Homo sapiens: one gene and its partners. The protein of the gene in region 1 interacts with the protein of each later gene in a pairwise test. Each region holds a gene or a part of one and is shown on either strand. Other genes may lie near its edges.

What was found.
Region 2: the proteins of PM20D2 (region 1) and TAPBPL interact in binary tests that used the Homo sapiens proteins (3 or more experiments, as listed by UniProt).
Region 3: the proteins of PM20D2 (region 1) and RP2 interact in binary tests that used the Homo sapiens proteins (3 or more experiments, as listed by UniProt).

What each region holds. Positions count from the first base shown.
Region 1 is NC_000006.12:89,156,037-89,163,054, reverse strand, and holds part of PM20D2 (xaa-Arg dipeptidase), read right to left. Parts: intron 4,731-7,018; coding exon 4,595-4,730; intron 1,651-4,594; coding exon of another isoform or gene 1,547-1,650; exon of another isoform or gene 1,285-1,546; intron 1,273-1,284; coding exon 1,165-1,272; intron 947-1,164; coding exon 792-946; 3' UTR 1-791. UniProt on the Homo sapiens protein: Catalyzes the peptide bond hydrolysis in dipeptides having basic amino acids lysine, ornithine or arginine at C-terminus. Postulated to function in a metabolite repair mechanism by eliminating alternate dipeptide by-products formed during carnosine synthesis.
Region 2 is NC_000012.12:6,447,286-6,455,059, forward strand, and holds the start of TAPBPL (tapasin-related protein isoform 1 precursor), read left to right. Parts: upstream 1-4,756; 5' UTR 4,757-4,963; coding exon 4,964-5,027; intron 5,028-5,265; exon of another isoform or gene 5,266-5,334; intron 5,335-5,781; coding exon 5,782-6,012; intron 6,013-6,161; coding exon 6,162-6,431; intron 6,432-7,774. Other genes in the region: CD27 antigen, read left to right, coding at 2,888-3,067, 3,256-3,345, 3,610-3,729, 3,871-4,289. UniProt on the Homo sapiens protein: Component of the antigen processing and presentation pathway, which binds to MHC class I coupled with beta2-microglobulin/B2M. Association between TAPBPR and MHC class I occurs in the absence of a functional peptide-loading complex (PLC).
Region 3 is NC_000023.11:46,832,270-46,840,060, forward strand, and holds the start of RP2 (protein XRP2), read left to right. Parts: upstream 1-4,773; 5' UTR 4,774-4,831; coding exon 4,832-4,933; intron 4,934-7,791. UniProt on the Homo sapiens protein: Acts as a GTPase-activating protein (GAP) involved in trafficking between the Golgi and the ciliary membrane.

The sequences.
Region 1 (7,018 bases):
TGGCTCATGCCTGTAATCCCAGCACTTTAGGAGGCCGAGGCAGGTGCATCACCTGAGGTCAGGAGTTCGAGACCAGCCTGGCCAACATGGTGAAATGCCGTCTCTACTAAAAATACAAAAATTAGCTGGGCATGGTGCCACACACCTGTAATCCCAGCTACTTGGTAGGCTGAGGCAGGAGAATCACTTGAACCTGGGAGGCAGAGGTTGCAGTGAGCCGAGATTGTGCCACTACACTTCAGCCTGGGCAACAGAGCGAGGCTCTATCTTAAAACAAAAAAAGGAAAGACACTGGCTTCAAATATACAATCTGGTAGAGGAATTAATATACGATTAGAGAACAAGTTTACCACCCTATACCACAAAACACTCTCATGGGTGTCAATTCTGAATATAAGGTTTGAAATCTCTTAAGCTTTTAAAAATACACATAACATTTAAGGCTTACAAAAAGGTTTACTAACATATTTTATAAAAATGATGCCATGTATCCTCCAGGTTAAGAAATGGTATCACTACTGTGAAGGTGAGTGGTTGCGGGGTAAAAAAAAAGAAAGAATGGCATCACATACCAGCTCCTGTAATATCATAATCCTATCAAGTACGGATTTGCAAAAATTTTCACTTTAGATATGAGGTAATTAATATGTTTTCTCCACACCCTGTCCTCACTTATCAGGTAAAAAGAATTTTACTCCTTTAAGATTAAAAAACAAGCATGCCTTCATTAAAAGAGATTAAAAGAAAAAAATCATCACGTCTTCTTGATTTATAAGTGGCCCCTAAGTCTTTTATTCTACTGCATTTACAAACTGTTCTTCTTGAAGTTTCAGTTTAAAGTCCTCTCTGATTCCTTCCAGTAACTCTGGTTTAAAAATAACATCCAGTGCCGTCATTGCCAGAGCTTTGGCCGTCCGCAGAGTGTAGAACTGAGCTTCCTGTGACCCTAAAAGGTAGAGAAAATAAAATACCTCCTTACTTATTTAAGCTGTATTTAATTTCACAGGTTAGCTACCCGTATCTCAACTGGCTCTCCAACTGCCCACCACAGTGCAGTATTTACTGAGGTGATGTTATGTAGTGAAATAGTAGGTTAAACAGAAAGGCAGCTACTACCAGAAGAAGAGTGTGTGTGCCAAAACAGTCACATCCAACAACACTTACCAGCAGCTTCAGTGTACTGTTCAGTATGATTCAAGGCATTAGATCCAATGTGAAAATATGGATGAATTCCAGGAACCACAAAACTAACATTTCCAAAATCCGTAGATCCTTGGAACACACAAAGTTAAGAAAAGTCTATTTAAGTATATGTGGTTAAGTATTCTGGAGTTATGAAGTCACAGTCCCTGTTAGAAGAGACGCAGAGAAGTGAGCTTCTTGGAGAGTTGTCCGTATGCTCATGCTTTCATGGGCTCACCTTCCACTGAGTCTGCCACCCACTCCCCTGTATCAGTCACATCTCTCATGAAGGTCACTGCAAACCTGCCCTCACCTTGTCTCACGGCTTTTACTGGCCCTCTTGGCCAGCACTCCACACTGCCACCTACTCCCTTTCTTCTCTTCTGTGACACAGCACTTGCATGGCTTCCCTTCTGCCTCTCTGATGGCCCCTTCTTCTGTCTCTCTTGGGGATAGAGCCCCCTCTACCTGACGATGAAATAATAGTTACGGGAGACTCCATTCCAGGCCCCTTTCTCTTCTTACTGCATATTCTTTCTCAAGATTTTGTCCGTATGTATTGCTTCAAATCACCACCAACTCAAATCTCTTCCCAGTCTCTGCTAAGTTCCATGCTCATACATCCAGTTGCCAGCCTGGTATCTTCTCTTGGATGTCTTCAAGGTAGATCAAACTTAACATATCTAAAGTCAAACTCATGATCTTTCTCTTCTACCTCCACTCCACCTATCAACAGTACCTGCCAAATATCTCAGAATCCTAACGCTCTTTGCATCACCATCACCAACACCTGTCCTCAGCCTATGCTATCATTATCTCTTGCCTGAACTAGAAGTTTCCTAATTGGTCTAGCAGCATCTACTCTATTTGCCGTCTTTTTTTTTTCAATCTTCATTCACCTTTCCAACCTGATCTCATACCATGTTCCCACTACTCTCGATGCCCTAGCCGCTCTAGACACTCACCATGCTCTCCCTGTCACAGGACCCTTGCACATGCTATCCCTGCATCATCTCTGTAACTCTTACTTAACCTTCAAATTCCATCTTAAGCATCATTTCCTCAGCAAAGCCTTACTTACTTCACCTTCCCATAAAGTGAAATTCCTCTAGCATAAGCTCTCACAGAGATGTATTACTCTCCTTTACAGTACTTTTTAATTTTCCATGTATTGGATGATTTGGTTCATGCTTATGTCAGAAACTAAATTATGAGGCTGTATGAGGCAAGAAATAGTATTTGAAATGACTGTGCATCTAGCTTCTCACAGGATTGACACACAGGCACTTGTTGAATAAATCACAGTAAAAACAAAGCCTTATGTTCACTCAATGGATATTTACTGAATGTTTATTACATGTCAAACACCATGCAGGCAAAGTGAGACTACACAGTGATTGGTAAGAGAATAAAGGAATATGTGACAAAGAGTAGCTAACATTTATCTGGAATACTACGTTCCAAACACAATCCTAAGTGCTTTGTATGTATTCTCATTAATATTTAGAACAGTTTCCATTTTAAACATGAAGAAACCAAGGCTTATGGGTATTAAATAACATGCCGATAGTCTCACAGCTGCTAGTTATGTGGTAAATGCAGACTGAGGCCAGACTTTGAGGCATAGTAGCCTCTATAGAAGTACTGCTTCAGAAAATATTCACTAAGCACTTAACTGTGCCAGAAACGGCTCCACACACTGAGGATGCACAGTAATGGGACATCAGTGAACAGGATGGAAAAAGCCTCTCCAGTGTTTAAAGAGTCTAAAGAGTCTGAGTGTAAAAACAAAACAAAACAAAAAAGGATGGACAAAAAAAAACCTGTTGCATATTTTAAGATCTTACTTGTGGAACTAGACCCTAGAGCCCACAAATCATACCAAAATCACAGCCACTTTATCCTACTGTTTTGTCCATTATATAAAACCCAAACCCGGGGTAGAGCAGGCCATGTGTCTTCCCTTCTTCAGCTAGACAGCAGAAACCTGCTAGGGTAAAAGAACAGAACCATGCTGAGCTGAGCTTTCTTGCTGTCCAGAACAAAAGAAAACATGAAACTCTGATGTCCCTGGACAACTCCTCTCAGTGGCAATTCTCTCTCAATCCCTCAGCCCTACCAGCTCAATGCTCACTGTGTGCTACTTCCTAGAGGGAAAGTCTCTGAACTCCCTGACCTCCTTCCTAAACATTACATCTACTTCTCAAGTATCTTCCCTTAAAAACTATTTTCTTTTCCGTATTTCCCTCAAGCTTGTATCCACTCTTTCTATTTTCCTTGAAAGCTAACTCTCTTGAAAAAGAATAGTCTTCATTTGCTACTTCCACTATCTCAGCAGTCAATGCCCTGGGTAGAGAAGTGAGACCCAGCATCTGGTACCACTGGTCTTATACTATTTTCTTCCAGACAATTCATGAATTTCTAATTACTAGAGTCCAGTGGACACTAGACCATATTCATCTTATTCAGTCTCTACAGCACTTGACATGATTTATGCCTCCTTCTCTTCTGTAAGTTTTCTTCTCCCTTGGCTTCCATGACTTCTCCTCTCTCCTGATTGTCTGGCTTTCTCTCTGACCACTTCGTTGACTGCCAATGTCTGATCTCTGGGAATCTTCTTCCTCTATGTATTTGGGCAACCTCATCGACATCTATGTCTTCTATATACCTTTCATATATGGACAACTCCTAAATCTCCAAACTAGACATCTTTTTGGGTTCTAGATTTAACAGGTACTGAACAGCTCCACTTAGAAATACTATAAGCACCTCAAGTTTAACATACTAATAATTTATAACAACCCCCTCTTACCCTAACCTGCTCTTTCTCTTGAACTCCTTATCTTAATGAATGACACCGACACCCCATTTTCACCACCAAGTCCTTTTGGGCCTACTTCAACAACATCTATTTTTAAAACAGATGATACATCTCTAACTTGCAAATGTATTAGTAATAATATGCTTTTAAAAGGAAAAAAAAACTAACATAACCCCAAATATGCTTATTTCAATTCTAGCTGTCTGTTGCTCCTCAGAAACTGAAAATGCCCCAGATAACTAAGTACTTAGTAACCTGCTTATTGTGATGACTGAGAATGAATTAAAATTCTATATCCCACCTTAGCAACTTACTTAAAAATTAAAACTAACGAAACTTAAACACTAGAAAATATTTAGAATACAGACAAAAATGTAGGTTGACTATTTCTAAAATCAAGTCTGCTCGTTTGACATTCTACACTCACTTAAGAGTCCATTAGTTTCTTTCCCCTAACCATAAAGTTTGTGAAAATATTAAAAACGTCAGTAGTACCTCCCGACCTCCCAAACCATTAAATACAACCAATTTAACCAAAGATGGTATTTCTCTTCCTCAAATAGCTCAATATATAAAAAAACACTTAATTACCTGAAGGGCCATTCAACATTGTATCTTCTGAAATGAACTCTATTCCTAGCTTTCTTCCATTTTCCATATAGGCTTTCCATAGGCTCTTATTGGGAAGAACATTGTAATAATCATGTGCTCCACCTTTAATTTCCACCTAATAAAAAATTGCAAAACAAATTTTGAAATAAAAAACTCAAATTCACTATCTAATTTTCAAACCAGTGATTGTTCTCTAATAGGAAGAGGTTTTAAGAGAAGATACTTTCCCTTCCAGATATAAACACTCTCAAATCTCTTACCTTAAAAAAGAAAAAAGATTTATTTTCTATAACGAGAGTTCCTAGGACTCTCTTTTATGCTATATATACACTAAACCCCACAATGTCACCAAGCTCTATACTAGCTACCAAGTGTCAACTTCAGTCACCTAGATAGGGTATGAGAAGGGCCCAGAAATTTTTATTTTATTTTTGAGATGGAGTCTCACTCTGTTGCCCAGGCTGGAGTGCAGTGGTGTGATCTCAGCTCACCACAACCTCCGCCTCCCAGGTTCAAATGATTCTCCTGCCTTAGCCTCCCAAGTAGCTGGGATTACAGGCGCCTGCCACCAAGCCCAGCTAATTGTTTTTGTATTTTAGTAGAGATGGGGTTTTGCCATGTTGGCCAGGCTGGCCTCAAACTCCTGACTTCATGTGATCTGCCCGTCTCGGCCTCCCAAAGTGCTGGGATTACAGGCATGAGCCACTGCACCCAGCCTAATTTTTATTTTAACCAGCACCTCAAAGTAATTCTGACATAGGTGACCCAAAAACCACACTCTGAGGAACACTGCTCTAGGATTCAGTCTCCAAAAAAAAGAAATTAAGCTTTACTAATATTCAATATGCAAACTGACACTGACATCACTGCCTGGTGTGAGAGGTAGAAAAGTACTCTGAGGGAAATGTAGAAGATTTGCAATGAGGAAGGGTTGACAACAGTCCTCATTTATTAATTTCAGTATATAAAGATACGGAAGCAGCTTTTATGTGCCCAGTTAAGTGGATTTACAGATTCAGTTTTGATTAAATAAAAATTGGCAATATTCCCTCAAACCAATATTAGCAAAAGCCAATCATAAAATGGCAGAGATGACATTTCTTTTATTCTTAGCAACATCTACGGTAGAAATTATGACAACCAAATCAGACCTTACAAGTCAGCCAAAATATAAGAAATTACTAAAAGATTATTTAAAATATAGATTTAGGCCAGGCAAGGTGGCTCACACCTGCAATCCCAGAACTTTGGGAGGCCAAAGCACGAGGATCACTTGAGCCCAGGAGTTTGAGACCAGCCTGGGCAACACAGGGAGAGCCTATCTCTACAAAAAACTTTAAAAATAAATAAATTAAATTAAATATAGATTCAAATCCAATAACAACAAACCTTACCATAAGGGAATACTGTATACCTTGAGATATTGCCTAATGATAATAGTTCACATCCATAAGTATTTCACAAATAAATATTTATAATTATAAATGAATAAGGGAATAAATATTTAGTTTTTACTGCCCTCAGCTATGGACATTTCACAGTTTTCATTCACTATAACCATCTTCTCTAGTGGCATATGAGAATACATCTTTGCTCCTACATCTGTCCATATGTTTATCGATTAACTACAACACAACACGAGCTTCTATATTCTTATCTTTGCTGACTATATTCCCTAAGAACTTTCAGTCTCTGTCTTTCCCATGCATATCTGAAAGTATGATCAACCTTCAAAGCTCAGTTCAGGTCTACAGTCTTCCACAAAACCTTCCTCCAAGGTTAACAGCCCCAGACCACTCTTTCCCACCTCTGATCCTCACGACACATTCCACACTACTCTCAGGACACGTAACATATGCTTTCTGAGAATTACTGCTACTGTGAGATACTGCTACTACGTGAATCAATCATACATCTCTAGACTAATAAGAACAGAAAAAAATAAGGCAATATAAATGAAGGCTGGGCTCTAAACCCTTCAGAAACATTATCTCATTTAATTCTCACAAGAATCCTAAGATAAATTGTTATTATCTCCATTTTTCAAGCAAGAAAATGGAGAGCCAAAGACACTAAACATTTCTAAAGGTTACAGAATTAGCTAGGCTGAGAGTTATGGGTCAAGATCTTGTCTCTCCAACTAGACTACAGGCTCCCTCTAGGGCAAGATTCTTATCTTGTATAATTCTAAAACTCACTCCACTTTACACAGTACATGATTTTAAATACTAACTTTATAGTTCAAATCAACAAAACCAGTCAGTGTGGTGGCTCACACCTGTAATTCCAGCACTTTGGGAGGCTGAGGTGGGTGGATCACAAGGTCAGGAGTTCGAGACCAGCCTGGCCAACATGATGAAACCTCGTCTCTACTAAAGATACAAAAAAATAGCTGGGTGTGGA
Region 2 (7,774 bases), on another chromosome or scaffold:
CTTCCTGAAGGTCTTCGCCCCATACTGAGCCCATCTTCAGTCCCTTCACTTGTTCCAAACTAGCCCAATCCATGACCCTTCTCTGGGAGCTCAGCCAATAGATCCCAAAGTACCACAGCAGCACCTGGCTGCAGAAGGACCCCCGGGAAATGCAGTCAGGGGTGAGAAGATGGGTGGGCTGAATGAGCTCGGCCCTCTCTGGGCCTTAGTGCTGGCATCTATGAGATGAGGACATGCCTGAAGTCAGCCTGGAATTTTGAGCCCAGGTTATACCTGGTAAATAGAACTCCCAGGTCTCCGGATACTCACCACTAAAACAATAGCACCTCATTGTTTTTGTTTTGTTTTGTTTTGTTTTTTAATTATACTTTAAGTTCTAGGGTACATGTACACAATGTGCAGGTTTGTTACATAGGTATACATGTGCCATGTTGGTGTGCTGCACCCATTAACTCATCATTTACATTAGGTATATCTCCTAATGCTATCCCTCCTCCCTCCCCACACCCCACGACAGGCCCCAGTGTGTGATGTTCCCCTTCCTGTGTCCAAGTGTTCTCATTGTTCAATTCCCACCTACGAGTGAGAACACATTGTTTTTAACCCTCCCCAGCAGCTTCTTTAACCCCTCCATTTCCCTTTTGGCGGAGACCCTTGTCATCACTCCTCTCTACCACCAGTGCTCTCCCCTCCTGCACTGTCCCAGGCTTCCTCATTCTTCCCTTGCAGGTCCTTATCCAACATGGCTCACAATTCCTGGGAAGCCACAAGGAAACCAAATTCTAGTAGCAACTCAGAGTCAGCATTCATTAGCAGGTCACAGGGCCATAAGGATGCCAAGAAGGAATTTGTCCCTCTCCTTGTCCTGACAAAAGGCATAAGTAGAAGAAAATTGTTAGGTTTGGTTATGACCTTTGACATTCTCTCTTTGACATCCTCCCTTTCTGCACCCCTCTTCCACCTGTCAGGGCACCTAGGGCTCCCCGGGTCCCCACAAGTGTCTGCCCTAAGGCCCACCAGGCTTTCTTGCAGCCTGTCCCACATCTGGGTGTCACTGCCTTCCTCTGAATCACCCTCCTCTCAAACCAGCCGCCAGCGAGCCCAGCCCAGCCCAGCTAGTGCCCTACCACACCCGCCCCCAGGATAATTAACACCCAGCCACCCAGCATCGGACCTCTACACTTGAGCAAAATGTATATTTTAAAGGCAAATTCTCACGCCTGTAATCCCAGCACTTTGGGAGGCCAAGGCGGGCGGATCACGAGGTCAGGAGATTGAGACCATCCTGGCTAACACGGTGAAACCCCGTCTCTACTAAAAATACAAAAAATTAGCCAGGTGTGGTGGCACACACCTGTAATCCCAGCTACTAGGGAGGCTGAGGCAGGAGAATCACTTGAACTCAGGAGGCGGAGGTTGCACTGAGCCGAGATCGTGCCACTGCACTCCAACCTGGGCGACAAAGCAAGACTCTGTCAAAAAACAAACAAACAAAATAAAGGCTAAGTAACTGTAATCAAGTAACTATTTATTATTTATTTATTTTAGTGTATCCACAGGTTGTGCAGCCATCAACACTATCTAATTCTATAACATTTTCGTTACCCCAGAGAAACTTGTACCCCTTAGCAATGACTCCCCATTTCTTCCCCCCAACCAACCCCAGCCCCAGCCCCAGCCCCTGGGAATCCCTAATATACTTTGTTTTGTTTTTTGTTGGTGGTGTTTGAGACAGGATCTCACTCTGTCACCCAGGCTGGAGCGCAGTATCATGATCTCAGCTCACTGTAACCTCCACCTCCCGGGCTCAAGCGATCCTCCCACCTCAGCCTCCCCAGTAGCTTGGGCCTACAGGTGTGCACCACCACACCCAGCTAATTTTTGTATTTTTTGTAGAGACGGGGTTTCACCATGTTGGCCAGGCTGGTCTCAAACTCCTGAGCTCAAGCAATCCACCCACCTCAACCTCCCAAAGTGCTGGGATTACAGGCGTAAGCCACTGCACCTGGCTATTTTCTTTCTTTCTTTTCTTTTTTTTTTTTTTTTGAGACGGAGTTTCACTCTGTTGCCCAGGCTGGAGTGCAGTGGCGTGATCTCGGCTCACTGCAACTTCCACCTCCCGGGTTCAAGCAATTCCCTGCCTCACCCGGCTATTTTATATTTGTTGATCTGCTGCTGGTTATGCCTGTGAGCCAAATTTGTACAAATTCTTAAGCTTTACAATCATGCGTGCCTCTCTGTACGTATATTATACTTTAATTAAAAGTTATTAAAGTATTGGGGCCGAGCACAGTGGCTCACGCCTGTAATCCCAACACTTTGGGAGGCTGAGGCTGGTGCATCACCTGAGGTCAGGAGTTTAATACCAGCCTGGCCAATACAGTAAAACCCCGTCTCTACTAAAAATACAAAAAATTAGCCGGGTGTGGTGGCACACACCTGTAATCCCAGCTACTTGGGAGGCTGAGGCAGGAGAATTGCTTGAACCCGGGAGGCAGAGGTTGCAACGAGCCAAGGTCACGCCATTGCACTCCAGCCTCGGCAACAAGAGCGAGACTCCATCTCAAAAAAATAAATAAAAAATAAAAAATGTATCAGGGAGTACAAGAGAAAGTCATATAAGCTCTTTCTACTTTTCATGGTTTCTATGTCTGAACCCATGAATCTTCCTTCTGAAAGGTCCAACTTTCTTCTTTAATAACAATAATAATGGCAAAGGCATTGGGGGACCGTGAGCAAAGGGCAGGCCTTTGCAGGGGTGGGAATGGAAAGGGAAGCACGTCCCTAGAGGTGGGCCTGGGATGGGGGTTGGGGGATGAAGCAAGTGGACCTTGAAGGTCTCCACAGGTCTGAGTGTCCTATGCTCCCTGGGCCTCTCTTCCCCCAGGTCTTCTCGTTCGCAACTGCACCATCACTGCCAATGCTGAGTGTGCCTGTCGCAATGGCTGGCAGTGCAGGGACAAGGAGTGCACCGAGTGTGATCCTCTTCCAAACCCTTCGCTGACCGCTCGGTCGTCTCAGGCCCTGAGCCCACACCCTCAGCCCACCCACTTACCTTATGTCAGTGGTAAGTTCCAGGCAACTCTCTGTGCCATCACGTGGGGTAGCGGTGATACCCCAACCAGTACTCCCCACTCCTACCCCTAGATAAGGTCAGCCTGTTTCTGCCTTCCCATCCCATCCAGCACCTCTCAGGCCTTCAGATGTGCCCTATGGGGTCCCCTGCTGCTACTCATTCTGTCTCTGTTTTTCCAGAGATGCTGGAGGCCAGGACAGCTGGGCACATGCAGACTCTGGCTGACTTCAGGCAGCTGCCTGCCCGGACTCTCTCTACCCACTGGCCACGTGAGTTTTCTCCTTAATCCCCACCGCTAGAGAGAATGCATACACGAGGGGCCAGGAGGGAAGCCAGACAGAAAGCTCCTAGGATTAGGGATAAGAGGAGGGGAAAAAGCAGAGTCCACTGTTTAGGAGAGGAGTTGGCCAACGGTGGCGGGTGGGATAGAATAAGGTGGGGGAAAGGGGAGAGGCAAGGTGACAGGAGGGCTGGGCTGAGGGAGCCAAGGGCTAGACCCTCCCCTAACCCCTGTGTGTCCCCTCCTATTACAGCCCAAAGATCCCTGTGCAGCTCCGATTTTATTCGCATCCTTGTGATCTTCTCTGGAATGTTCCTTGTTTTCACCCTGGCCGGGGCCCTGTTCCTCCATCAACGAAGGAAATATAGATCAAGTAAGAGACAGAACACAGGCCTCCGGTCCTGCCCCTGCACCACACCCCACTGGCTCAACCCCACTGCCCACGCCTGGAATCTCACTGAAACCCACCAGCTCCACTTCACCAGCCTTGGTCCTACCCCTTCTCTCCCCTTAGCTGGCGTGCTCCTGACACCCCTCCCCCAAGCGCACCCGCCTCTACCCATCTCCTTCTCCCGTCTCCCCCTGCCCCCACTGCTGGCCAAGACTCATCGGATCTCCTTCTGCAGACAAAGGAGAAAGTCCTGTGGAGCCTGCAGAGCCTTGTCATTACAGCTGCCCCAGGGAGGAGGAGGGCAGCACCATCCCCATCCAGGAGGATTACCGAAAACCGGAGCCTGCCTGCTCCCCCTGAGCCAGCACCTGCGGGAGCTGCACTACAGCCCTGGCCTCCACCCCCACCCCGCCGACCATCCAAGGGAGAGTGAGACCTGGCAGCCACAACTGCAGTCCCATCCTCTTGTCAGGGCCCTTTCCTGTGTACACGTGACAGAGTGCCTTTTCGAGACTGGCAGGGACGAGGACAAATATGGATGAGGTGGAGAGTGGGAAGCAGGAGCCCAGCCAGCTGCGCCTGCGCTGCAGGAGGGCGGGGGCTCTGGTTGTAAAACACACTTCCTGCTGCGAAAGACCCACATGCTACAAGACGGGCAAAATAAAGTGACAGATGACCACCCTGCAGCTCTCCAGCTTCCTCTCTGAAATCCCAGTCCCAAAATCCAGTTTCCTGGCCGCCTCCTGGCTCAGGTCAGGATCTGGCAGAGGAGGTTTCTCAGCCGGTTATGTTGGGGCCTGCTTAAGGGCGGGGGTGAGAAAGGTCCCCAGGCTACTGTGGATCCTGTGTCTGACTTCAGATCCCCTTTTCCCACAGTTATAGCTCCACTTTTTTGGGACAGGTGGGGAGCAAAAGGGTGCAGAGGTCAGGTCTTGAAATCACCAGGGGATTTCCGGGTGAGGTGGGTGGTGAGAAAGGAAACAGCAAGCAGGGCTCTGGCAGCTGCTGCAGACGGCTTCACACAGGGACGCGGGCTGCCATCTTGCTCTAAGTGAAAGTGAAAGAAAAGTCGGCAGCAGAGGGAACAGGGAAGAAACCTAAAGGCTGCAGGCTGCCAGGTGTGCTTGGAGAGCCCCCTTCTTCCGCCGGGCCTCGCAAGCAGCGTAGGACTGTGGAGAAGGGCGGTGGGCAAGGAGGGAACTCGAGAGCAGCCTCCATGGGCACACAGGAGGGCTGGTGCCTGCTGCTCTGCCTGGCTCTATCTGGAGCAGCAGAAACCAGTGAGTCTGGGAGTCGGGGAGAGCTGGCTGGGAGAAGAGCTACTGAAGCCCCAGGGTGCCACCCTCCCCGAGATTCCAGAAGAGCAAAGGGGCCGGGGATGACCCCATCGCCTTCTAAGCCCAACAGGGGAAAGGCTCAGCGGCTGGCAAAGGAAGGAACCAATAGTGTGTGTGGAGGGAGGGTGGGGACTCCACAGGGAAAATGCTAAAGAGGGGCTGCCTCTGTGGCTGTGGTCAGGAGCCACTGTCCTACAGAGAGGGCACTGGCCTGGGAGCTGACACTTCAGAAGAGGAAAGGACTCCCCAGGTGAGGAAATCACTTGGAAGGTGACCTTGAAGGCGGGGGAGGGGAAGGCTACCCGAAATGGGAGAAAGCAGTGCAGGCTGTCAGTGCCCCAGCAACAGTAACTGTCCAGTCTCCTCTCTCTGCGGTGGCACTTGCTTGTTTTCTGAGAATTCCTTTGACTGAAAAGATAGTCTTTTATTCAACAGTTGGAAATGCAAGCATAAACTCCTCTGAGCAAGGCAAATCCAGGACTTTAACTCTCACCAAGAAGTATTTGCCTGGACTAGCAGGTGCTCTCCAGAAAGCTGGTTTGGGGATGACGGGAGAATAGAGGGACACAGAAACAGCTAGGATCTTGGATGGCAACTTTTACCCTTTGATGACTCCACAGCTTGAGGGCGGGGGCAGGAAGCAAGTGTGGAGTAGCTTTCTGGGGAAGGCGGTGCTCACCCCAGCCTTTGTCTGCAGAGCCCCACCCAGCAGAGGGGCAGTGGCGGGCAGTGGACGTGGTCCTAGACTGCTTCCTGGCGAAGGACGGTGCGCACCGTGGAGCTCTCGCCAGCAGTGAGGACAGGGCAAGGGCCTCCCTTGTGCTGAAGCAGGTGCCAGTGCTGGACGATGGCTCCCTGGAGGACTTCACCGATTTCCAAGGGGGCACACTGGCCCAAGATGACCCACCTATTATCTTTGAGGCCTCAGGTAAAAGCCTTCCACCTGTGTCCTTGGTCCTCCCGGGCTCCCTCCACCAGGACAGCCCAGGTCCCGATTACAGCCACACATACTGCCTCCCGTTGGCCCTGGTGTTCTCACGCTAATTTGCCCTCTGTGTGTGCCCTGCTTCTCCCCAGTGGACCTGGTCCAGATTCCCCAGGCCGAGGCCTTGCTCCATGCTGACTGCAGTGGGAAGGAGGTGACCTGTGAGATCTCCCGCTACTTTCTCCAGATGACAGAGACCACTGTTAAGACAGCAGCTTGGTTCATGGCCAACATGCAGGTCTCTGGAGGGGGACCTAGCATCTCCTTGGTGATGAAGACTCCCAGGGTCACCAAGAATGAGGCGCTCTGGCACCCGACGCTGAACTTGCCACTGAGCCCCCAGGGGACTGTGCGAACTGCAGGTAAGAAAATGAAAAGCAAGGCCAGGTGTGGTGGCTCACGCCTGTAATTCCAGAATTTTGGGATACCGAGGTCGGTGGATCACCTGAGGTCAGGAGTTTGAGATCAGCCTGGTCAACACGGTGAAACCCCGTCTCTACTAATACCAAAATTAGCCGGGCATGGTGGCGGGTGCCTGTAATCCCAGCTACGAGGGAGGCTGAGGCAGGAGAATCGCTTGAACCCGGAAGGCAGAGGTTGCGGTGAGCCGAGATCACACCATGGCACTTCAGCCTGGGCAACAAGAGCGAAACTCCATCTCAAAAAAAAAAAAGAAAAGAAAAGAAAAGCAAGTCACAGAAAGTTTTGCTTTTCTAAAGTGGTAAGATATGGGGCACAGAAGAAGAAAGGGAACAAATCCACCTCCATCCACACTGGTCACCTCAGGGCACCCCTAGGCCTTGGTCCTTTCTTCCTAAAAACCCCTGAGTCAGGCCAGGTGCGAAGGCCCATGCCTGTAATCCCAGCACTTTGGGAGGCCAAGGCAGGTGGATCACCTGAGGTCAGGAGTTCAAGACCAGCCTGGCCAACATGGTGAAACCCCCTCTCTACTAAAATACAGAAATTAGCCGGGCATGATGGCAGGTGCCTGTAATCCCAGCTACTCAGGAGACTGAGACGGGAGAATCACTTGAACCTGAGAGACGGTGGTTGCAGTGAGCCGAGATTGCGCCACTGCACTCCAGCCTGGGCAGCTGAGTGAGACACCGTCTCAAAAACAACAACAACAACAAAAACCCTGAGTCCACAAGAGAATGCTTCGCAGCCCCTACCTGAACGTCCCCAGGCACACAGACAACCTGTGTTATTTCCAAAATGGAGATCGTTCTCATCTCACTGGGCTGCCATGAGGAAATAAGACACATGATGCTATTCTGTACATGGGTGCTGTCCACTGTAGTCTTATCGAGCCAAAACCCGGTTTTCTCCCAGTGAAATGCTAGGCTGCTCTGGTGCTTCAGGGGTAAAGCTCAGGGATGCATCATTTGTTCATGATCTTATTAGTAAACCCAGTACTTGCCCTCTCCAGCTCAGCACATCCTCGAGGGCACAAGAAATTGAGAACATGATGACAGGGTTCCCCAGAGCCCATTAATCCAATACTCTGTGCCCTGCTTCTTTGAGTCTCCAAGAAGAAACAGCCAAGTCCAGAGAAAATTAGGGGCAACCGTCCTATCCTTGGAAAACCCCAGAACACTCTAACCTCTCTGTGGTCCAACCTAAATCTATCCTGACCCATTAGAAAAAGGTCTTCATGTCTGTCCAGTGTCTACCATACTCCTGGCATGCGTAGGTATTTCTCTCT
Region 3 (7,791 bases), on another chromosome or scaffold:
AGTGAGCAAGGATGTGTCAGGTCAACTCAAACATAGGGAATTTTCCAGCCATCGTTGCTGGGGTAATTGACTTATTCATGCTGTAGAGATACACTGCTTCAGGACTGTCTTTTTGTTGTTGTTGTTTTTGAGATGGGATCTCACTCTGTTGCCCAGGCTGGAGTGCAGTGGTGCGATCTTGGCTCACTACAGCCTCTGCCTCCCGGGTTCAAGCAATTCTCCCACCTCAGCCTTCTGAGTAGCCGGGATTACAGGGGCGCACCACCACGCCTGGCTAATTTTTGCATTTTTAGTATGTTTAGTATTTTCACCATGTTGACCAAGCTGGTCTCAAACTCCTGACCTCAAGTGATCCACCTGCCTCGGCCTCCCAAAGTGCTGGGATTACAGGTGTGAGCCACCGTGCCCGGCCAGGACTGTCTTCTGAGAAGTAACTATATCACTTCTGTGGTCAAGACTCAGGGGACCCAGAGCCATCTCTGGAGCTTGTGGCCAGGTGTAAACCCACAACTCAACATTTTAATATAGATGAATAGATACATCAAGCTGAACAGGAAGGGCAGCCTTCTATAGAAAAGAAATCACTAGAATATAAATAGCAGGAGGAGCACAAGCAGAACAAGCAACCAACTTCTGCCTGAACTCTTCAGAGTTAGCGTTCCCTTTTCAGGACCTGCTTCCCACCCATATCTGTAACACCCATGTTTGGAATTCGCCCCTGCAGCTGCAGCAATGGGACCAGGGGTGCATACCAACCTAGAGCCAATCTGTTATTGACTGGCCAGCAATGTATATGATTATCTCCCTTGAGAGTCTGAGACTGTAGCATGCCCTTGGACAGAAAGGCCATGAGGAATCAGGGTGGGATAGCTGTTGTCAACCATGTAAATGCTGATGAGTAAGTAGAGAGCTGGTTTGCAAAAATAAGTAGTGATGAGAATTCATGGGGACAGGTGAAAAAGAGATGGGGCAGAAAAGAAAGAAAGAATAAGAGAGAAAGAAAAAGGATGAGACAGCACTAGTATTAGCTCTGTTCATTAGCTTTCTAGTCCCCAGTTCTTAACATTTGATTTAATTTTCTTTTTGTAATTTTGTTTTTGGTCAAGAGTGATGGTAGGATGGGAATGAACAGAAAAGGGACTTTATCTTCACTTTTAAGGGTCCCTGAAAAGATCACTCTTGGATATAGGTTTTATTGTAGATTTGAGCTTTTCTCATTAATGAATACTTCAAAACAGTGAGAGTTTCAGAGGTTGTTTCTCTAGAATTAGTTTTGTTATATTGTTTGTTCATTAAGAGGAATAGCATCACTGTGGGACAGAGCTCCCATAGGCATCAGAAGGCCGAGGCAGATACTTATTTCAGATGAATTAGAGAGGAACAAACTTAAGGCAGGAGGAGGCACTGGGAAACACAGGATGTGGATTTTTCCAGTCCCTGCTCAGCCACTCTCATCGTGACCACAGATTCATCCCTTCACCTCTCTGGATCTCTGCCTCCTCTGCTACACTAAGTAGTGGTCATAGTTATATATTTATATCTGGTCACAGATGTTTTATAATCATAGACCATAGATTATAAATATAATAATAGATTATAAAATATCGAATGAGGGTCTTATCCAAAAACATCTTCACATAAAACTTTCATCTCACTCTGAAGGAGAAAAAGTGTGCACTGGGTAAAGACTCTATTGCCTAAGATCTGGAACTTAAATTTGCAGTAATTTCTAATACTTAAGCACATGTACTTTTCTTCCCGATTGTGCAATAAAGGACGGGAAGTAAAAAGGGGAACATTCTTTATGTTCAAATTAAGTCGGCCGGGCACTGTAGCTCACGCCTGTAATCCCAACATTTTGGGAGGCCGAGGTGGGTGGATCACCTGAGGTCAGGAGATCGAGACCAGCCTGGCCAACATGGTGAAACCCCGTCTCTACTAAAAATACAAAAATTAGCCAGGTGTGGTTTTGTGCGCCTGTAGCCCCAGCTACTCGGGAGGCTGAGGCAGGAGAATTGCTTGAACCTGGGAGGTGGAGGTTGCAGTGAGCTGAGATCATGTCATTGCACTCCAGCCTGGGTGATAAAGCGAGACTCTGTCTCAAAAAAAAAAAAAAAAAAAAAAGTCAGAGGCTCATTTAGGATACAAACTAGATGTGAATAAGTATGGGAAATTTAAAAGATAACCAAATTTGAACCTGAAGTGATCAGCATTTGATATCCTACTGAGATGTCAAAATACTGTTTCTCAGAGAAACTGACTTACCTTTCTTTTCTATTACATAGGCAATGCATGTGTATTGCAGTAAAATTCGACCCAAGTATAACAAATGTTTATATTTAGTGTATATATCTTTAAATATATTCTGACGAACCCTATGCCATTTGCTTAGAACAGATCTGATCGTTCATATGCAATGCTTATGTCCTCAACGAGGCTATAAACTCCATGAGGAGAACCCCTTTACCATAAATCCACATGCCTCCCACCCCCACAGTTTGGTCACTTTCTTTGGGAAGGGATGGGGGAAGTTTATAAATGCTTCCTTCACTAGCACCCATGCATGCATTCATTCATTTGACAAACGTTGTATTGAGCACCTAGTATGGACTTGGGCCAGGTGTAGGAGATTCAAAGGTACATCCCTCCCCTCAGCTTTCCTCCCCACTGCCTTTTTTTTTTTTTTTTTTTGAGACGGAGTCTTGCTCTGTCGCCCAGGCTGGAGTGGAGTGGCGCCATCTCGGCTCACTGCAACCTCCGCCTTCTGGGTTCAAGCTATTCTCCTGCCTCAGCCTCCCGAGTAGGTGGGACTACAGGCGCCCGCCACCATGCCCGGTTAATTTTTGTATTTTTAGTAGAGATGAGGTTTCACCATATTGGCCAGGCTGGTCTCGAACTCCTGACCTTGTGATCCGCCCGCCTTGGCTTCCCAAAGTGCTGGGATTACAGGCGTGAGCCACCGTGCCCGCCCCCCCCGGCTCTGGTTTTTTTTTTTTTTTTTTTTTTTAGACAGAGTCTCCCTCTGTCGCCCAGGCTGGAGTGCAGCGGCGCCATCTTGGCTCACTGCAACCTCCACCTCCTGGGTTCAAGCAATTCTCCTGCCTCAGCCTCCCGAGTAGCTGGGACTACAGGCACACGCCACTACGCCCGGCTAATTTTTGTATTTTTAGTAGAGACGGGGTTTCACCAGACGGGGTTTCACTGTGTTGAGCAGGATGGTCTCGATCTCCTGACCTCATGATCCTACCGCCTCGGCCTCCCAAAGTGCTGGGATGACAGCCGTGAGCCACCGCGCCCGGCCCTGCATGCCCTTTATGACATACCTTTTAGGCCAGGCGCGGTGGCTCATGCCTGTCATCCCAGCACTTTGGGAGGCCGAGGCGGGCAGATCACCTGAGGTCAGGAGATCGAGACCAGCCTGCCCAACATGGTGAAACCCCGTCTCTACTAAAAATACAAAAATTAGCCGGGCGTAGTGGCAGGCGCCTGCAGTCCCAGCTACTCTGGAGGCTGAGGCAGGATAATCACTTGAACCCGGGAGGCGGAGGTTGCAGTGAGCCGAGATGGCACTGCTGCACTCCAGCCTGGGCGACAAGAGCAAAAACTCCATCAAAAAAAAAAAAAAAAAAAAAAGATATACCTTTTTGATCTCAAGAAAGTCACAGTTCAAATAGGGAAACAATACACAATTAACTATTTTACTAAGTACTTGTGCAATTTTAGAGCCATATGTGAAAGTCTTAAGAAAACACAGAAGCAGCCTGGGGTGCGGTGGGTCCTGCCTGTAATCCCAGCACCTTGAGAGGCTGAGGCAGGATGATCGCTTGGGCCCAGGAGTTCAAGACCAGCCTGGGCGACATAGCAAGACCCCATTTCTACAAAAGTAAAAAAAAAAAAAAATAGGTGGGCATGGTGGTGCTTGCTTGTAGTTCCAGCTACTCAGGAAGGAGGCTGAGGCAGGAGGATCGCTTGAGCCCAGGAAGTCAAGGTTGCAAAGTTGCAAGGTTGCAGTGAGTTATGATTGTGCCACTGCAGCCTGAGTGACATAGCGAGACCCTGTGAAAGAAAAAGAAAGAAAGAAAGAAAGAAAGAAAGAAAGAAAGAAAGAAAGAAAGAAAGAAAGAAAGAAAGAGCACAGAAGAGGATTGGGAGGTTATGGGGTACAATTCTTGAGGGGGTGACCCTGGCCAGGCGATGAGAGGGCGGTAGGAAGGGTGATGAGGGGAGAAGAGGATTTAGAAATACAAATTTCAGGGTCTTCTTGTGTCAGCGGGAATTTCTGTCCCTCACAACTTTCATCATAAGATAAATCTAATGTTCAACTAGAGATCTCTCCCGCGCCTTGAACTTGCAAATTTATGAATCAGGGGCAAAAAAAACCCGGATACCGAGCCTGGCCTCCCACCAGCTAGAGAACCCACCAAGTTCCAGGAGGGGCGGGGCCGAGGGCGGTCCGTGCCACAGCTGTGGGCGGGGTTGTCCGTGCTTGCGCCAGAGCCGGCCCGCCCCGCCGCCAGGGGCTGTCGCAGGAGCCAGGCGTGGATTGGTATGTGGGTATGTCGGCCTCTCTTCATAGGCCGCGCAGGATTGCTCGAGAGGCTTTGATTGGCTCAACAGGCGCTGAGCGTTCATTGGCTGCGCTGGGTCGTCAGGGCGACGAAAAAGGGGAAGGGGTGCTGGGCCTGGCGGGCAAACTAAGGCTGCGGACCGTTGGGCGGTTCCGCGGGGCGTTGTCCGGAGAGCTGCGAGGCCGGGGTTCCCAGGGTTCACGCCACACTCTAGGAAGTGCCTGAGCTAGTGAGCTGGCCAACGAGCTCCGCGGGCTGGGACCATGGGCTGCTTCTTCTCCAAGAGACGGAAGGCTGACAAGGAGTCGCGGCCCGAGAACGAGGAGGAGCGGCCAAAGCAGTACAGCTGGGATCAGCGCGAGAAGGTAATGAAAGTCGTGTAGCCGCCGTCTCAGCCTCCCTGAGCCGCTCCGCCAGGTCCCTTACGGCCCGGGACCGCTGAGGGGGCCGACCCAACTGCTGCCGCACTCTCTTGAACGCGGATAGCTGAAGTCGGGGTGCACGACTTTTTTGGGGAGCGGGGACGTGAAGTACAGCGCTAGAGAGGCCGCCCAGAGGGCTGTGGAGCTCCGGAAGGAGCCTTAGGAGTTTGTTGTCGTGGTAGACAGACTCCCCCGGGAGCTTTCTCTGACTCCGAACCCTGCCTTGCTCTGACTTCCTGTTGGAGATGATCGATTCGAGAGAGGGAAAGAGCCGAGAACGCCCTGAATCTCAAATCACCTCGTTTCACCCACCGGCAGCGTCAAGCGGGGTTTTGTCCAGTCGTCGAGTTACGTATATGGGACCGATTCTCATCTCTTCCGGGGCTTAATGTTCTGTGGCTGTTTTCTCTTTTGTCTGCCCTCCCCGGCAAATCTCTTTGGTGCCTCATGATATATTTCACTGCTGAATTTTCTCAATTACCAAGTGGACTGTTTAATGTACAGCTTTACTCCCCCTCCTCTTCCAGTTATCCGAAAGAAATAATGAATATCGCATCAGTCTTGGAATGTGTATTAAGACTGTAAGGTGAAAATAAGCGGCATAAACCAGGCAGTATTTTACTGCTGGTTTAAATGAATGAAAACGCCCTTATTTTTATTTTTGTATATAGCCAGAAACGAAAAACCTTTGAAAACCTCCATTAGTCTTACACAAAACACACTCGGTCATACATTTCATAATAGTTCCTCTTTCTACATAGTTCTCCATTTGTGCTTACTAAACTACTTTGATGGACTTATCAATTATTTCTCCCAAACAAAATGAGAGATTTTTCAAATGGGTATTATGAACAGTTAACTCTTTGCTTAAGGCAACATATCTTTACCCAAGATTACTTTATAATAAATGTATTAACGTTTTGGAATCACAGACCTTTCTGCATGATTTCCAATCCCCAGCAGAATGTATTCAGGTAAGCTCTGGTCTCTAAGAGTCAGAGTTAGGAAATTGAAAGCTTTTTGCAGCTTTTCTCAGCCCCGTCTTTCTGCCCCTACTTCTCATACACACCCTTCTTGGGTCACATGGTACCTTTATTCTCTGTTAGTCATACTCGATAGTAGCATTTTATAATGTAGGGGAAGAAAGTACTATGCTTTCTATTTCACAAGAAGATTGCACCTGCCATTTAAAGTTATCTGATGGGCGGTTTTTAAAAGATATTGTTTTCCTCAGCCTTTGGCTTTCTAACAATGTTCTTTTAGCTTGAATTGTCTGCCTTAGAGAAAGTTGCATATTTCATTTTTATTTTAGTTTTTTCTTTTGAACTCAGGCTAAATCTAAACTAAATAAAATGCCTTTTTTATTTATAGTAGTCTTGGCTGCCTATGACTCATCGTTTCACAATAAATTGTTTTACAGTTAATGTTTATTAACATAATATTCAGGTTAGTTAGGACTTCTCATGTTAATCCTTCTTTTAGATAAGTGTGTGTGTCCTGTGATTTTTTTTCTTCTTTTGCCCATTGGCTAAGTAAATGCATTGAGAAATATAACATTGGACACCAACATCTAAGCTTTTTCCCCACAAATGAGTGTGTAATAAACTTTCAATTGTAGAAACTGTTTTGAGCTTACAGAGAACCTTTTTTTTTGAGAACACTACTAAGTTCTGTAGTTGTAGAGTTGTAAGAGATGTTATTGGATATATAAAATAAGCTCATGCTTCTGAGTGTGTGTATAATAAAAGTTAAAATCTTGATCAACTCAGCCAATCAAAATGAGAATTTCTAACCAAATGAGCATTCTGAAAAAAACCCCAGTTTTAAAATATTTTGGACTGTTGAAGAGAATTACCAGCTTACATTTTGAGACAATGCAGATACCACATTTCCCAACATAGCTTTTTCTTTTTAGTTTTTTTTTCTTTTGGAATTACTAGGAATTCTTTCTAAGTTGCCTCATTTTGATAGCTTGTTAAATTTTATACAATTTAAAATATTTTTTTCTAGGGCCAGGCATGGTGACTCATGCCTGTAATCCCAGGACTTTGGGAGGCCAAGGCTGGTGGCTCTCTTGAGCCCAGGAGTTCCAGACCAGCCTGGGCAATATGGCGAAACCTCATTCCTACTAAAAATACAAAAATTAGTGGGGCATGGTGGTGCACACCTGTAGTCCCAGCTACTCAGTAGGCTGAGGTGGGAGGATCACCTGAGCCTGGGACTTAGAGGCTGCAATGAGTCATGATCGGGCCACTGCCCTCCAGCTTGGGCAACAGAGTGAGACCCTGTTTCCAAAAAAAAAAAATAAATAAATAAAATATTTTTTCCTAGTTCCTTGCCTCCCGTGAGGTTAATTTGGGCTAGTGTGCAAATGTTCTGTATTAGTCCAATGATACGTTTACTGAGCATGGCCTTGCTTGCTCCTAGAAGATTTCAGTTGTACCTTAAAAGGAACAGATTGCAAATACAGCCCAGAGAACATAAATGAGATATGATGCATGCATATTAATAGAAATGATTTATATTAAAAGTTTAGGCTTCTGGAATGTGGTTATGGATTATAGCATATACAGTTTTAAAGTTATATCAGACAATTACCATTCAACTTGTAAGACTTTTACATGTAAAAACAAAATGGGTTGCCTGAAAAATTTCCTTGCAGCTTAGAAAAGGGTGTTTACATTTTTCCTTAGGTTGTGTAATCAGAGTATCTTTTTTTGATGTTTTCTTTTTGAGATGGAGTCTGGCTCTGTCATCGCCCAGGCTGGAATGCAGTGGCGCGATCTCGGCTCACTGCAACC